4 separate regions of the Homo sapiens genome follow, and regions 2, 3 and 4 are each reported to be linked to region 1. The links are microRNA targets in miRTarBase. Many come from high-throughput screens and were not tested one by one. Region 1 holds a microRNA gene; each other region holds the end of a gene's coding sequence.
Evidence for each region. The annotated mature microRNA hsa-miR-6832-5p reads AGUAGAGAGGAAAAGUUAGGGUC and lies in region 1 at 2,522-2,544, opposite strand. An mRNA with a match to its seed (bases 2 to 7 or 8) in the 3' UTR can be bound and repressed. Matches are read on the target gene's strand: a 7mer-m8 pairs with bases 2 to 8, a 7mer-A1 pairs with bases 2 to 7 and ends in A, and an 8mer does both.

Region 2: the mRNA of MLXIP is a reported target of hsa-miR-6832-5p. Seed matches in the 3' UTR shown: 7mer-m8 at 1,183-1,189 and 8mer at 432-439.
Region 3: the mRNA of RSL1D1 is a reported target of hsa-miR-6832-5p. Seed matches in the 3' UTR shown: 8mer at 795-802 and 7mer-m8 at 2,589-2,595.
Region 4: the mRNA of IL36B is a reported target of hsa-miR-6832-5p. The part of its 3' UTR that is shown has no 7-base or 8-base seed match.

What each region holds. Positions count from the first base shown.
Region 1 is chr6:31,632,640-31,636,335 of GRCh38, reverse strand. It overlaps MIR6832 (microRNA 6832), which reads right to left and starts at 2,549; the gene lies at 2,478-2,549. It overlaps PRRC2A (proline rich coiled-coil 2A), which reads right to left. Exons shown (of 31, transcript NM_004638.4): 16 at 3,344-3,696; 17 at 2,689-2,957; 18 at 2,347-2,477; 19 at 1,971-2,100; 20 at 1,779-1,864; 21 at 1,359-1,583; 22 at 1,064-1,204; 23 at 871-942; 24 at 587-754; 25 at 287-369; 26 at 1-127. RefSeq lists a silencer at 1,494-1,657.
Region 2 is chr12:122,141,155-122,144,850 of GRCh38, reverse strand. It overlaps MLXIP (MLX interacting protein), which reads right to left. Exons shown (of 17, transcript NM_014938.6): 17 at 1-3,160. The coding sequence ends at 3,039. Among named protein-coding and RNA genes, the nearest start is that of IL31, 31 kb to the left of the region's middle. RefSeq lists a silencer at 2,162-2,362.
Region 3 is chr16:11,834,958-11,837,957 of GRCh38, reverse strand. RSL1D1 (ribosomal L1 domain containing 1) reads left to right here. Exons shown (of 9, transcript NM_015659.3): 9 at 1-3,000. The coding sequence ends at 171. Among named protein-coding and RNA genes, the nearest start is that of BCAR4, 7.6 kb to the right of the region's middle.
Region 4 is chr2:113,024,992-113,028,687 of GRCh38, reverse strand. It overlaps IL36B (interleukin 36 beta), which reads left to right. Exons shown (of 5, transcript NM_173178.3): 5 at 573-1,255. The coding sequence ends at 785. Among named protein-coding and RNA genes, the nearest start is that of IL36A, 21 kb to the right of the region's middle.

The DNA of each region.
Region 1 (3,696 bases):
AGCCGGCAACTTCCCCAGCTCTGTAGCTTGCATTGTGGAGAAATCCAGAAACTGGCCCTTGAGAGCTAACCCAGAGAGCAGTGCTGAGGGAGGGGCTGGGCCGGGGGGTAGGTATAGGGGCTGTGATCTGAAAATAAATTGTGGGGAGAAAAGCTGTTAGGAAGCCAGAGTCCTAGCAATGCCTTAAGTCCACTAGCTTCTAGTACCCTAGAACTGTGTCTTCCCCTTCCCTCTCCCCGAAACACATCTCCAAGTACTTCTGTGATCCACAGGCATCGAGTCTTACCTGTAAGGGTGCAGTGAGGGTGTCCCAGGGCGGAAGCCTCCACTGTTTGGATGTAATTGAGAGTCCATGGCTCCCCCAGAGATCTGCAGGAGAGGAGCACGGTTGAAACAGCTTTAGTATCTGTGGTCAAGAAAAAAGATCACCATCCCACCCATAGAAGCAAAAAGTAGGGAGAAAAATGATGTGACAAAGTGGTATCTCACAACTCTGCAACGTAGAAAGGCTTGATTATAAATACATACCAGGCAGAAAAAAATTATTATTCACTGAAGGGGTCATGCAATGGGAAGCGGGGCCTACCTGAGAACTGGAAGGCCCAGCACTGCCATAGAAAACCTCAGGATACAGGCGCTGGCCTGAGGAGCTGGGCTCCGGGACACAGTGCCCAGAATCCAGGTTCTTGGATTGTGGCTCAGCAGAGGCAGCAGCACTGGGAAGCAGCTCCCAGTCTCGTGATACAGGAATGGCCTGGGAAGGAGAGGCCTCGTGGAGAGGGATGTCTGGCATCCTGGACGCCCTGGTCACTCCCAGCAATCTTCCCCAGAAATCTTGGGCCTTTCCACCAAACTCTTACTCCCACTTACCTCAGTGACTGATGCTGTTAGCTCCTTCTCTGCTTTCAAGCTGTCTCCTACCACTAGGCGTAAGTCTGAGTCCTGTGATCACAAGAAGGCAGGAGACATTGTCCCGTGACAGACATGTGTCCTCTATGTCCCACCTTTAGTCCTTCCCTTCTCTCCACCCAACTCAGGATACCCAGATCCAGCCCACACAGACCTTGTCACTAGTGCCAAACTGGACTGGGGGACCAGGTCGATGGGATGGCCGAATGGGGCCAGGCTCTGTGCCTCGGTCTGTACGCTGTGATCGTTCTGTGCCAATGGGGCCAGGGGGCAGAGGCTGCTCCCGGGGCAGCTCCTGGATTGGGCACACAGTAAAGTGCATTGGGGGAGGGAAAGGGAAATCCAAATTGGAATGCCCAGAACACACACGCAGAGAGAAAAAGCAGAAAAAGGTAGGGCCAAAGTCAGATTCCTGGAAACATTCCCCTTATCCTTTTTTGGTCTTTTACCTTTCTGTCCCCATCGTGGGGGGCAGGTGGTGGTCTCCTAGGAGGTTCAGAGCCAGGTGGACCCTCACAAGGAACAGCATTCAGGGGTGAGGAGCCTCCAGGCCTCTTGGGGGGTCCCTCTGCTGCCCCCTTGAGTCCTCCATCAGGGGAACTTCGCTGGCTGCAGGGACCTGATGACACCTGAGAATCCCCACTCAGGTCCACCCCACTGTCAGACTGACTCATCTGAGAGGAGTGGAGAAGGAGCTAGTTAAGTCAGGGTAGAAAGCACCCCAATACCTGACTGATGCACACATACAAACTGCAGAAAGGGGACAGCCAAGTGAGAGAACAGCTCCAGACTCAACCCAGAGCAGGTGGGGGGTATGACCAGTGCTCAAAAAAGTCCCAGCTCAGACACACCCTCCCACCCTCACTCACTTCTGTGCCAGCCACATCCTCAAAAGGACTCAGGGGCTCCATCCAAGGCTCCATGGAGCTGGGCCGGTAACTCTTTCGGCTAGTGGCTGGAGAAGGGAGCACCAACCAGAAGAGAAGTGAGGAGATGACAGTTCAGAAGCCCCTCTCATTCTTAACCCTTCTACCATAGTCCTTTCACTCAGCTTTACTCACCAGTATGTAAACGGTTCCAGATGTGAGGGGTCAGGGCCTCTGTGCCTGTATCTCTGGACTCTGCCTGAGGGCCTGGGCCCTCAGGCTTAGAGCCCAAGAATCCAGAGCTATGAGGAGGTGGCAAAGATTCCTACAGATGAGAAGGGCCAGAAGCAAAACATGAATTGGGTGGGAATTGGGAATTATAGGAAGCCAGGACAGAGTGGGGTGACACAGGGTGTGGGGACAACAAGGGAGACACATGGGAGACTAATACTGAGAATTCTGGAGTAAAAACACAGTGAAAGAAACAGGAAAGAAAACAGAGAAAACATAACCCAGAAGAATTTTCACGAGTAAGAGTGCAGTGAAGCACAATCTCAAACCCATCCCTTACCTCCTGTAGCAGCTCTGGTTTTCTGGGAGGCCGCTCCCGACGTTTAGGGGGAAAGGGACTAACCCCGGCAGAGTCCCGAGGAGTCCCACCCACCCCTCTCACCATTGGCCCCGGCTCCTCAAAGTGGGGGTCTGGGAAAGAGAAAAAGGGTCAGCATCTGCCTGGCTCTGCCACTGACCCTAACTTTTCCTCTCTACTCCACCTCCCAATTCTTCTACCCTTGCTCCCTGCAGAAACGCACCCAGCAGCAGGGTCCCTAGGCCAGGTTCTCCACCCGCTCCCTCCAGCACTTGACCTTCTCTGGGGATGGAGATATTCCCACCCATAACCCCTCCAGCTTACCAGAACTGAGGCCGCTGTTGACCCTCTGGGGCTCGTATCGGGTTGGGGGCCTAGGAGAGGGGCCCTGAGGGGCTTGGGGAAGCCCAGGCTTGTGCCTTGGATGACCCCCTGGTGCAGTTACACTCCCTTGACGGCTACTAAGCTGGGCCAGAGCCTGTTGGATGCCAGCAGGGTTGCTGTGGATAACTTGGTCCAGGCGGAAGACAGCAGAACTGCTGGGAGGTGGGGGAGGCAGGGGAAGCCCCGGGGGACGCTCCTCTGGAGGACGACTGGAGAAAACAGAGCATTAGCTCCAGTATCCACTAAATCGTTACTTTTTCCCACAAGTTATGTTTCCCAACTTCTGCTTACAACCTATTCTCTTCCCTATTAAAGTCCAGGTGTTTTTGAGTCCTTCTAAGGATTCCTATGCATACAGATGCACAGACTGGAAAGCAAAGAACCAGCAATGAATACATAGGTGGGTGTTCTTGACTCTAACACCCTACCAACCGCTTTCCAGTTGCCTTAGCCAGACATGGAAATCCTACTGACATTCTAGAGCCCATGGCCCCTCAGGCCACAATCTCCACTCCACCCAAACTTATCTTTCCCTCAGGCTTTTTCCCCCTCCTCCAATTTTTAAACCACAATAAATTTGTTTGTTCCTACCCACCTTCGGTTCTTGGGAGAGGGCCAGCTCCTCTTGTCGCCTCGTCCTGGCCCGGTCCTTCCTCCAGGACCCCCACCGCCTCCTCCACTGCTGCTGCCACTGCTGCCAGCCTTGCCCCCTGGGCCAGGGCGCCGATTCTGCCGTTCCATGCCTGGCCGCTGACTTGAGAAGCTCCGTTTACTCAAATCCTTGGCTCTCTGGCTCAGATCTCCGCGGGACATGGCTGAAATACCTGGTACGGCTCCACCTCCACCTCCCCCAGGAGTTCCCACAGCCTTGGGTGTCAGCAGTACTGGTGGGGGTGCCTCTTTGTCCCCTCGGCGCTCACTGGTGAAGTCACTGCTCTCTGATGCAGT
Region 2 (3,696 bases), not on the chromosome of region 1:
CAGTGGTACAATCTCAGCTCACTGCAACCTCCGCCTCCCAGGTTCAAGTGATTCTCCTGACTCAGCCTCCCGAGTAGCTGGGATTACAGGCGTGTACCACCACACGTGGCTAATGTTTTGTATTTTTAGTATAGACAGGGTTTCACCATGTTGGTCAGGCTGGTTGTGAACTCCTGACTGCAGGTGATCCACCCGCCTTGGCCTACCAAAGTGCTGGGATTACAGGCGTGAGCCACCACAGTCTGCCTCTATTTTCTTTTATTTAGAGGCAGGGTTTCACTCTGTCATCCAGGCTGGAGTACAGTGTGGCATGATCATAGCTCACTGCAACTTCTAGGCTCAAGCAATCCTCCAGCCTCAGGCCCAAGTAGCTGGGACCACAGGCACTCACTGCTACACACGGCTAAATTTTTTTTTTTTTTTTTTTTTTTTGTAGAGACAGGGTCTTGTTATGTTGCCAGGGTTGGTCTCCAACTCCTGAGCTCAAGTGATCCTTCAGCTTCAGCCTCCCAAAGTGCTAGGATCACAGGCAGGAGCCACCGTGCCCAGCCAAGATTGATTTTCTTACTCTCCAAAGCGTCAGCATTTTGAAGTTTCTTTTATGAAAGTGGGGGCAAGAATCAGGGTGAAAATGAGTGTAAACAAAGCCCATCCTGTGGTCAGCACCCACTGGAGGTGGCCAGCAGAGTGGCCTCAGATGTTCCTGCACCTGGCCCAGGAGCCCAGGACAGAGGTCAAATCTAGGCCCCTTGGTCTGGCTGGATTCATCAGGCAAGATTCGAAAACAAGAAAACCTCTAGAACAAGAAACAATCATGTCTGCAGCAGATACGGCACTGTGGCCCTATGGCCATGGCAATCGTGAGCACCAAGAGAATGAGTTACAGAAATATCTCCAATACAAAGACATGCATCTCCTGGACAGTGGACAGTCGCTGGGACACACACACACACTTCAAGGCTCACACAACCTAACAGCCTTAAATATCTGAAGAAACAGAATCACGACATTAAGTCAGCAGAGGGAGAGGTAGGCTGAAGCAGCAGGAGGCCAATTTTATATCCCACAGATTTTTTTAAAAATGACTCCCCAGCAAGGGGTGGGGAGAAAGCCACTGATTTAGGAGAGTTCTTGGCTCAGCCAACCACTGCGGTTATCTACACGTTTTACAAAGGCACAGAAGTAGAGAGGGGCTGCACTCACGACCCTCCCCAGGGCCCGCACAGCCAGACACGGTGGGTTCTTCCTTTTTCCCTTCTGGCCTTGGTGGAATTCCTACCACGGTGGCCTCTGCCTTTGGGACAATGCCTTCATGCTCATCCCCGGGTCAAGGATGGAGTCTGTTACCATTTTCCAGGGGAAATTCCAAGGACCAGCCCCGCCTCATTACGTTCACCCCACAGGAAGGTGATCTGGAAAGCCTGTAAACACGTACTCTGGGTGGCTGAGTGGTGTCACCAAGCTGCTTTTGTGCAGGGCTGAAGCACAGACAAGAGGGCAGGCAGCTGGCCGGAGGCCTGAAGTGGGGAGAGATCCCCGCAGGCCTGCAGGAGCCAGGGAGAACCTCCAACTGGATCTAAACTGTGGGACAGCCCAGGCGTGCCCCTCTTCACATGGCTCCCAGGCTCCCTCAAAGCCCTTCCCAGGCCCTGCAGGAAGAGAGGGAGGGTGAGGAGAGGCAGGGAGGGCAGAGGTCGCCTGAAAGCCTGGGCTCCGAACTCCTCAGCAGAGCTTTAAAGTGCATTCTTTCCACGAGGAGGTACCCTCGGCCGGGCTTCCTGAGTGCTGGAGAGAGTGCTTGCCCCTGCAGCTCCCTGCAGAGGTAGCCAGAGAAGAGCAAGGACTGAGGCTGGGCCAAACTCTCACTGCAGGCTCAGAATGGCCCCCAGCCCAGCCACACCTCCACCCAGCCCAGATCTGGGTAGATTCTTTGCTGTCTGATCTGAGAGATGCCTAGAAACAGCTCTGAGGGCTGACCACCACAGAGTGCTGCCTGCCAACATTGTTTCCTTCTCCAAACACAAGACGGGACAGACTTTTGAGTGTGGGGGCATCTTTGGTCCGAGAACTGTCCTGGTTTGGGGCTCCCAGCTGAAAGACATCAGACAAGATGACAAGGCTGACAGCAGGACGTGGAGTCTGATCTTTCAGACACTAGAACTTCAGGGTTCTAAGCTCCCACAGGACATGCTTGATCTGTCAACAGCTGCAGCTGGAGCCAAGTGGAGAAGAACGGCAGAAGGGCCACAGCGGTGAGGTGACATCCGAGAAGGCCCTGGGCTGAGTCCCCATGGATCCTGCAATGTCAGGTGGAGCTAAAAGGGGACAGATGAAACATGCCCAGCAGGGCCTCTCAGCCAGAGCAGCCACCGTGCATCACACGCTTCCATTCTGGTCCTGTGTGTTCCACATCCACCGTTTCTGCACACATGTGTCCTGGAGGACCTCTGAAGAAGGCACTTCCCCCTGGCAGCCTGCCATGCATAAGCCTGAATAGAAGCCCAAGTCCATCCACAAGGGCTGGGTGCTGTCAGAGTTGAGGGGAGAAAGAAAGACGCCTTCCAACTGCCCCACGGGCAGACCAGAGAGTGGAGCAGGGCATCAGGCAGAGGCATGCATGTGGACAGGACGTGGCAGGAGGGACAAGGCTGGGCCTCAGGACAGGAGCAGGCCCTGTCACCCTCATCCCATCGATTCCGCTCACCGGCGCCAGGCCCGGCAGGCCACCAGCAGGGCAGGACCAGCACGGCCAGCACTTCCCTTTTGTGTGGGCTGCCCCGAGGGCAGAGGAGGTTGGTGACTGAGGTCACTGAGTGAGAGAGTTCACAGCAAGGGGTTCCCAAAGGCGGGCTATTGCTGTCAGCAGGCCCCAAACCTGCTTCAGACCTGAGCATGGCCTCCCGATGCCACGGTGGGCCGGCAGAGTTGGAGAGAGGCCCCGAGGCTGAGCGTCAGGAAGGGCTGGGGGGCGCAGCCTACTCTCCATGGGCAGGGAAGGGTCTCCTGGCATCTCATGCGGCCACATGCCAGCTAAGCAGCTAGGACTCTCCCAATCTCTTGCCAATCCTGGTGACAGCCTTGGACGCCTGCTCTGGCAGCTGTGCCGGGTCTGTGAGGATGGAGGTGGAGGTGCTCAGCTGCCGCAGCGTGCTCAATACCACTGCAAGACAGAAAGGGTCAGACACAGGCAGTGACACAGACCCACCACACACCGCACACTCGGCTTTGTACCTACAACCCATGTGGGAATGCTCAGGCACGGGGCGAGCAGCAGCCATGCTGGACTGCAGGGAGGAGTGCCAGGGGCCGACACCGAGACCTGGGCACTCACCCCTCTGCCTCCAGAAGCCTCCCCAAATCCAGGAGCTGCCGTAGGTGGAGCATCCTATGCTGTTCCTGGTGCCATGGGGCTGCCAGCTGTTCTGATATTAAGCTTCTATAACCTTAACATATGGGATAATCTTTGCTTGTTGTTATAAGAATTAAACAAGAAAACACACCTGAAGGCACCTGATACAGGGCCTGGCAAATAGTTGGCACTAGATCCATGCAAGCTGGGTCTGAACAAGCTGGGAGACACAAAAGGGCAGGAGCCTCCTGCCCCCACTGGGCGCTCCTGACTGAGGACCTCCTGGACAGCACTGTGCCCCTGCCCCGGCCCCACCTGGCTGCCTGCAGTGGAGTCTGGCTAATACT
Region 3 (3,000 bases), not on the chromosome of region 1:
AAAGAAGAGGCAGTGAAGGAAAAAAGTCCTTCGCTGGGGAAAAAAGATGCGAGACAGACTCCAAAAAAGCCAGAGGCCAAGTTTTTCACCACTCCTAGTAAATCTGTGAGAAAAGCTTCCCACACCCCCAAAAAATGGCCCAAAAAACCCAAAGTACCCCAGTCGACCTAAAGTCAGTGATTCAACTGGAAGGAAACCTCAATGCTGCCTCCAGAGCTTTTTGGAAATACTCAGATCCTGGCCGCCTTTGTAACCTTCTCTAAACGTCAGGCCTGGACTTAAAAGATTTTTTAAAACCTCCATAAGTAGTCCAGGGGCGGTGGCTCACGCCTGTAATCCCAGCACTTTGGGAGGCCGAGGCAGGCGGATCACAAGGTCAACGAGATCGAGACCATCCTGGCCAACATGGTGAAACCCTGTCTGTACCAAAAATACAAAAATTAATTGGGCATGGTGGTGGACACCTGTAATCCCAGCTACTAGGGAGGCTGAGGCAGGAGAATTGCTTGAACCTGGGAGGCGGAGGTTGCAGTGAGCCACTGCACTCCAGCCTGATGACAGAGCAAGACTCAGTCTCAAAAATAAATAAAAATAATAAAACCTCCATAAGTAATCCTGACATATGTTCCTGGGTATAATCTGTTTCTAAATTGTCCTTCTGTGTATTTGCTAATGTAATAGAGGGAAAAATAGAGTGCTTCTCTGTGGTTGTTCAGCACTTTAGGTAGCCAAGGTGAGAGGATTGCTTGAGGCCAGGAGTTTGAGACTAGCCTGGGCAACTTGGTAAAACCCCATCTCTACAAAAGAAAAAAAAAAATTAGTGTGGCATGGTGGCATGCATCTGTGCTCCCAGCTCCTCACGAGGCTGAGGTGGAAGGATCAAGTGAGCGCAAGAGGTTGAGGCTCCAGTGAGCCACGATCACCCCACTGTGCTGTAGCCTGGGTGACAGTGTGAGATTCTGTCTCAGAAAAAACAAAGTATAACATTGCTTTGCTTCTGAGTATACTGTTGGCTTTCCAAATCAGTGGGTCTGACTTGAGGTCTGTGATGTGACCCTTTTCCTCACCTGCTCAACCATTATTCACATGGACTCCATCATATTCATTTGTAGTCATTCCCAGAGTGGCCCAGTGAGGGTCTCGCTGTATGAGAGTCGGCTACGGAATTTAGGAGAAACAGAAGTTTCTTGGCTTTCATGCTGAGCTTGTTGGTCTAAGCTTATGAGTCACTGGATTAGCATCCATATGGGAAGGGAAATTAACATGGAGTCATTTATACAGGGACTAAATTGAATCCTACCTACCGGAGGCAAGAACATGATTTATCTTCCATAAGCCTTATCCTCTTCCTCCTTATTCCTCAGTCCATATGGATTTGCTTATGTATGACAACTCCAAGGAATCTTGGAAGAGTAGATTGCTAACGTTTCCACAATTGTCAAGTATATTCTGAGGCAGTAAACACCTTTTTAGGTACGTGGCCTTTCACTGGTTGTGAATTGGTATGCATCCGTAGTAGTAAGTTCACAGATTCACTGCAGTGCAGGAATGTTCTTGCATGCCAAAGACTCAACTGCTTTCAAAGATAATGTGGGTGCTAGATGCAGTGGCTTACATCTGTAACCCTGTTAGGGTGACCAGACCCAACACCAGGTCGTGGGGGTGACAAAGTCCAGTGGAGTCAAAGGATTGAGAAAAAGACAGTTTGAGAGAGAAGTAGGACCAGCAGACCATCGGGATGGTGGAGGCTGTGAAGGCCGTGAGCTCTGGGAGCCCACACTATTTATTGGTAATCCAACAAAGAAACAGATGGTGAGAATGTGAAGGTCAGAAGGGCACCTTGCATTAAGCACATGATTTACAGCTGTGATGGTTTAGCATTTGCTCTGCTACTTGAGATGATGGAGAGCAGGTTCTTTTAACTCAAGTTACAGTCGATCCTGGGAGAGCAAGGAGCCAGCAAGTCTAGACATTCCAGAGCCACAGGCCCTGGATTTTATCCAAGCCACGAGGGATTTTATGCCCTGGGCTTAGATTATGGTGCGTCAGGGCAGCCTTCCACCCTTTAGCACAGAGCTTGGTGTTCCAAAGACCACAAGGGGTTTTAGACCCTTGACCCTGGACATATTCCAAGACTCTTTTACATTATGTCAGAATGCAAGCCCTGCCTCAGCTTCTCCCAACACTCAGCTTTTCGCAACATAATCCCAGCACTTTGGAACGCTGGGTGGATTGCTTGAACCCAGGAGTTCGAGACCATCCTGGGCAATATGGCAAAACCCCATCTTTACCAAAAATAAGCTGGGTGTGGTGGAACATGCCTGTGGTCCCAGCTTCTTGGGAGGCTGAGGTGGGAGGATTGCTTGAACCCGGGAGGTAGAGGCTGCAATGGGCCATGATCACGATCCTGCACTCCAGCCTGGGCAACAGAGAGAGACAGTCCCTGGCCCACTGCCCCCTTCCCTGGCCCAGTCTCAAAAAAAATGAGGCTGGGCGTGGTGGCTCACATCTGTAATCCCAGCCAAGGCTGGCAGATCACTTGAGGCCAGGAGTTCTGAGACCAGCCTGGCTTACATGGTGAAACCCCATCTCTACTAAAAATACAAAAACTAGCCAGGCATGGTGGGAGGCACCTGTAATCCCAGCTACTTGGGAGGCTGAAGCAGGAGAATCACTTTAACCCGGGAGGTGGAGGTTGCAGTGAGCTGAGATCACACCACTGCACTCCAGCCTGGGCGGCAGAGCAAAACTGAAAAAAAGAGAAAAAAAAAAACATCTAGCTCTCCCTGAAATTAGAGGAGTCTAGCCTGCTTTTGCTGTTTTTTTGGTAGCGAGAGTAGCGGGCAGTGGGGGAGATGGTCTTACTCTGTTCCCCAGGCTGGAGTGCACTAGTGTCATCACAGCTCCAGCCTCAATTTCCTGGGCTCAAGGCGATCTTCCCACCTCAGCCTCCCAAGTAGCTCAGACTACAGGGGCATGCCATCACAGCTGGCCAGTTTT
Region 4 (3,696 bases), not on the chromosome of region 1:
GAACAGTATTTTCTCCATTCTCGGTCCTGTTTAACTGCATTCTGGAAATCCTCTAAGACAACGGGATGCTCTCACTACACCAAAGGTGACTGCACAGCAGAGGAGACAAAAAGATTTTGAATGTGGTTATGGTCTGTGTACCATAAACACATAACTCTTACCAAGGCAACATTGTAGTTATGAAGCTAATTCTTCTGCTATTGTTGGAAATTGTAATGCATAAGCCCACTTGGAGGTTGAGAATGCAGCAAGACTGGCCTGAACCTGCAGACAAATGCATATCAAAAGCACCAAGAAAGAGATTTCAACCTCCCTCTGTTCCAGGGAAGACAGTGATGCTTCAAAGAGTCAGAGCACCTTGTGTCAGAGGATCCTGGGGTGGAGCCAGGCTATGGGAACCCAGTGAGTTCCCGTTTTTAACACTCTAATGCCCTGCTTCATCTGCCTTTGTCCCTAGCCTCTGTCCCTTCCTTTGGGGGCAGCAGTCCCTCTCCTGTTACACACTCAGAGCTGAGTTACTTTAGCTTCCTCCTCCTATCCTCCTCTCTAACAAGCCTCTTTTCCACCCCCAGGAAAAAAATATCATGGACCTGTATGTGGAGAAGAAAGCACAGAAGCCCTTTCTCTTTTTCCACAATAAAGAAGGCTCCACTTCTGTCTTTCAGTCAGTCTCTTACCCTGGCTGGTTCATAGCCACCTCCACCACATCAGGACAGCCCATCTTTCTCACCAAGGAGAGAGGCATAACTAATAACACTAACTTCTACTTAGATTCTGTGGAATAAATCCAGCCTAGGCTGTGGGTGGCTGGTTCCAGGATAGAGAATCAAGCTGTCAGAGTCATCTTAACAGATCATTATGCGACTGAGTTCACTAGCAGTTCAGCCCATCCATAGCTTACCTCATTCTTACTATCCAAAAGCCACCTCCTCCTCCAAACATCCATTTCTGTACCAAGACCCTCACTCGAATGTCACTATCCCAAGATGAAACCTAAAAATCACTTTCCATTCTTTCTTGATCTTACCCCACCATCCACTCAGCTGCCATGCCCAGTTTAGTCAACCCCCCAAATGCTGCTTCATGCAACCTTCCATTCCTATTCCTTTTGCCAACCCATGATGTAGAGATGTGGATTCATGACATTTTGTTCATACAACTTCTTCAATAAAACATTATAATATGTGCCCCAAAGATAAAGCTGAAGAATGAGATGAATGTGAAATTAAAGGTTTGCATGTCTTTCTAATCCTAATGAATTCTTAATGTCATTCGTTAATAATTTGACACACAGTGTATACACTTAACCCTTGAACAACACGATTTTGAACTGCACAGGTCCACTTAAACACTGATTTTTTTCAATAAAAGTTACACCAAATGTCCCTGCTTCTCCTGCCTCCCCCTCTAACTCCTCCACCTCTTCTGCCTCTCCACCCCTGAGACAGCAAAAACAATCCCTCCTCTTTCTTCTCCTCAGTCAATGTGAAGATAATGAGGATAGATTGTTATGATGATCCACTCCCACTTAATGAATAATAAATATGTTTTCTCTTCCTTACGAGTTTCTTAATAGTATTTTCTTTCCTCTAGCCTACTTCATTGTAAGAATACATTATATAATACATATAACATACAAAATGTGTTAAATGACTGTTTATGTTATTGGCAAGGCTTCTGGTCAACAGCAGGTTATTAGTTAAGTTTTTCTGAAGTCAACAGTTATACATGAATTTTTGACTGTACTGCTACCCCCATGCTGTTCAAGGGTCAACTGTACTTTGGTTAAGATCAATTGCTAACCATGGTGAATGTAAACCAATCCATATTTTAAAAAATCATTTATATTGGCTTTAATTTCTTTCAGACAACTTCTAGAACTGAATGTTTTTTTGTTTTTACTTTATAAAGTTGCTGGAAGAAGAAGCATCAGCTATGATACTTCCTTGTTATTATTCATATTTTCTGGAATTTTGTTAGTGTACATTCAATCTACCACTCCTCTATAGGGATACTTTTAAGCCAGTTGTCCATTTTGTGAGAGTTATTTTAATTAAAGTTTGTAATATAATCTGCAAATCCACTAACCAAGTACATGTATACTGCAATAAATATACCATAATATCCTGAGCATGAACATGAGCATAACAGGCTGTCTTCTCTCAAGAGAACTTGTCCTTCTTTGCACATGACAAGCAGGCATATTGGGTCTTGCAATGGGTACCCACTGCTAAGTTCCAATTTCTCAGCCAGGCATAATTTGTCCCCAAAACTATGCTTCTGGCATTATCTCTTATTGCTTCAGTGCCCCGCATTCTCTTTGGGATACTCCTGAACCCCACCTTACATGCTGTATGCAGGCCTTTTACTCCAGTCATTGCCGTGCAACCAACTTTGAGACAGTGTAACCTGGCAGTGTATTATCTCAGCAACATTGAACATTTCTCTCTTCCAGCTTCAGGGCTCCCAAGATAACATAGGGAAGGACACTTGCTGGAAACTAGTTGGAATTCACACATGCATAAACCTGGATGTGAGAGAGAGCTGCTTCATGGGAACCCTTGACCAATGGGGAATAGGAGTGGGTGAGGAGCAAATTCTCTTATCCATCCCACAGGTGGACAATTCTGAGATGCGTTCATTCTTCATGGTTCCTCAGAGGATCCCAGCAGTATTGAGACATAATCACCCATGGCAGGTCTAAGTTCAAGAATACATCCTGAATTGACTTCTCTCACTTCCCTGTTTCAATTTCCCCAGTCCCTTCTCATGTTCCCTAGGGTCACTTGTCATCATCTTGCATGCAAACCCTTGTCTCAGTCTCTGCTTTCTGGTATAAACCTAGCTAAGACAGATTCTATCAAAACCAACTTCTTTTCTCAACTAGCCACCTCCAACACGTTGGATTTCTTCCCTCTATGTTCCTGCTCATGCCTTTGCACACATCTCAAACACTTCCATTGCTGCCTATGTCTTACTAACATCCTAAATCCCTTCCAGCTGTTTTACGGGACTCTCCTCATCTTCCCAACCGAAGGCAACATCTTATCTTCTGCGAGGTCCATAGCATTTTTGCCTTCTCATGGAACATTTATTTTCTTAGGCTTTGTGCTATAGCTTCTTCTCCTTGTCTTGGCCCATTTGCTCTCTTCTCGTCAACCAAATTCTAGGTACATAGAGGCAGAAATTTGTCTCTTTCATTTATGCACTCCCTTTAGATACCAAATCTTCCCTCCCTCTTAGCAGTTTCTCAGAATGCACTGTTGAAGCAAATTAATTTTCATTTCATGTATTAGCATCTTCCCATTAATACCAAAGTGTGTCAGGGAGAATCTTGCATTATATCAGGGCAGTCCTCAACTTCAAGAAGGGTCCAAGGAACTGGAAAGCTTCTCACAGAATATGGAGAGGAAAAACATAGAAAGGCTGCTCAGAAATTTCCCTGTCTCAATTCTTCCTCCTCTTCCCCTTATGCCAATATGGCTCCAGGGGAATGTGATGATACAAGGGCATCCACTCGGGAGGAGATGGCTGCAGAAATGAAACATAACCAAGGGTATCCCCAGGAGCTTTTAGCCAGTATCCTCTGCCTCCCTCTTGGAGGGCTCGGTGCACAGTCTGAGGGTTTGCATTTTGTCCAAGCCTTTCCCCACATGTATTTATGCATATGCACAACAGCATAGGGGCACAAGAGAA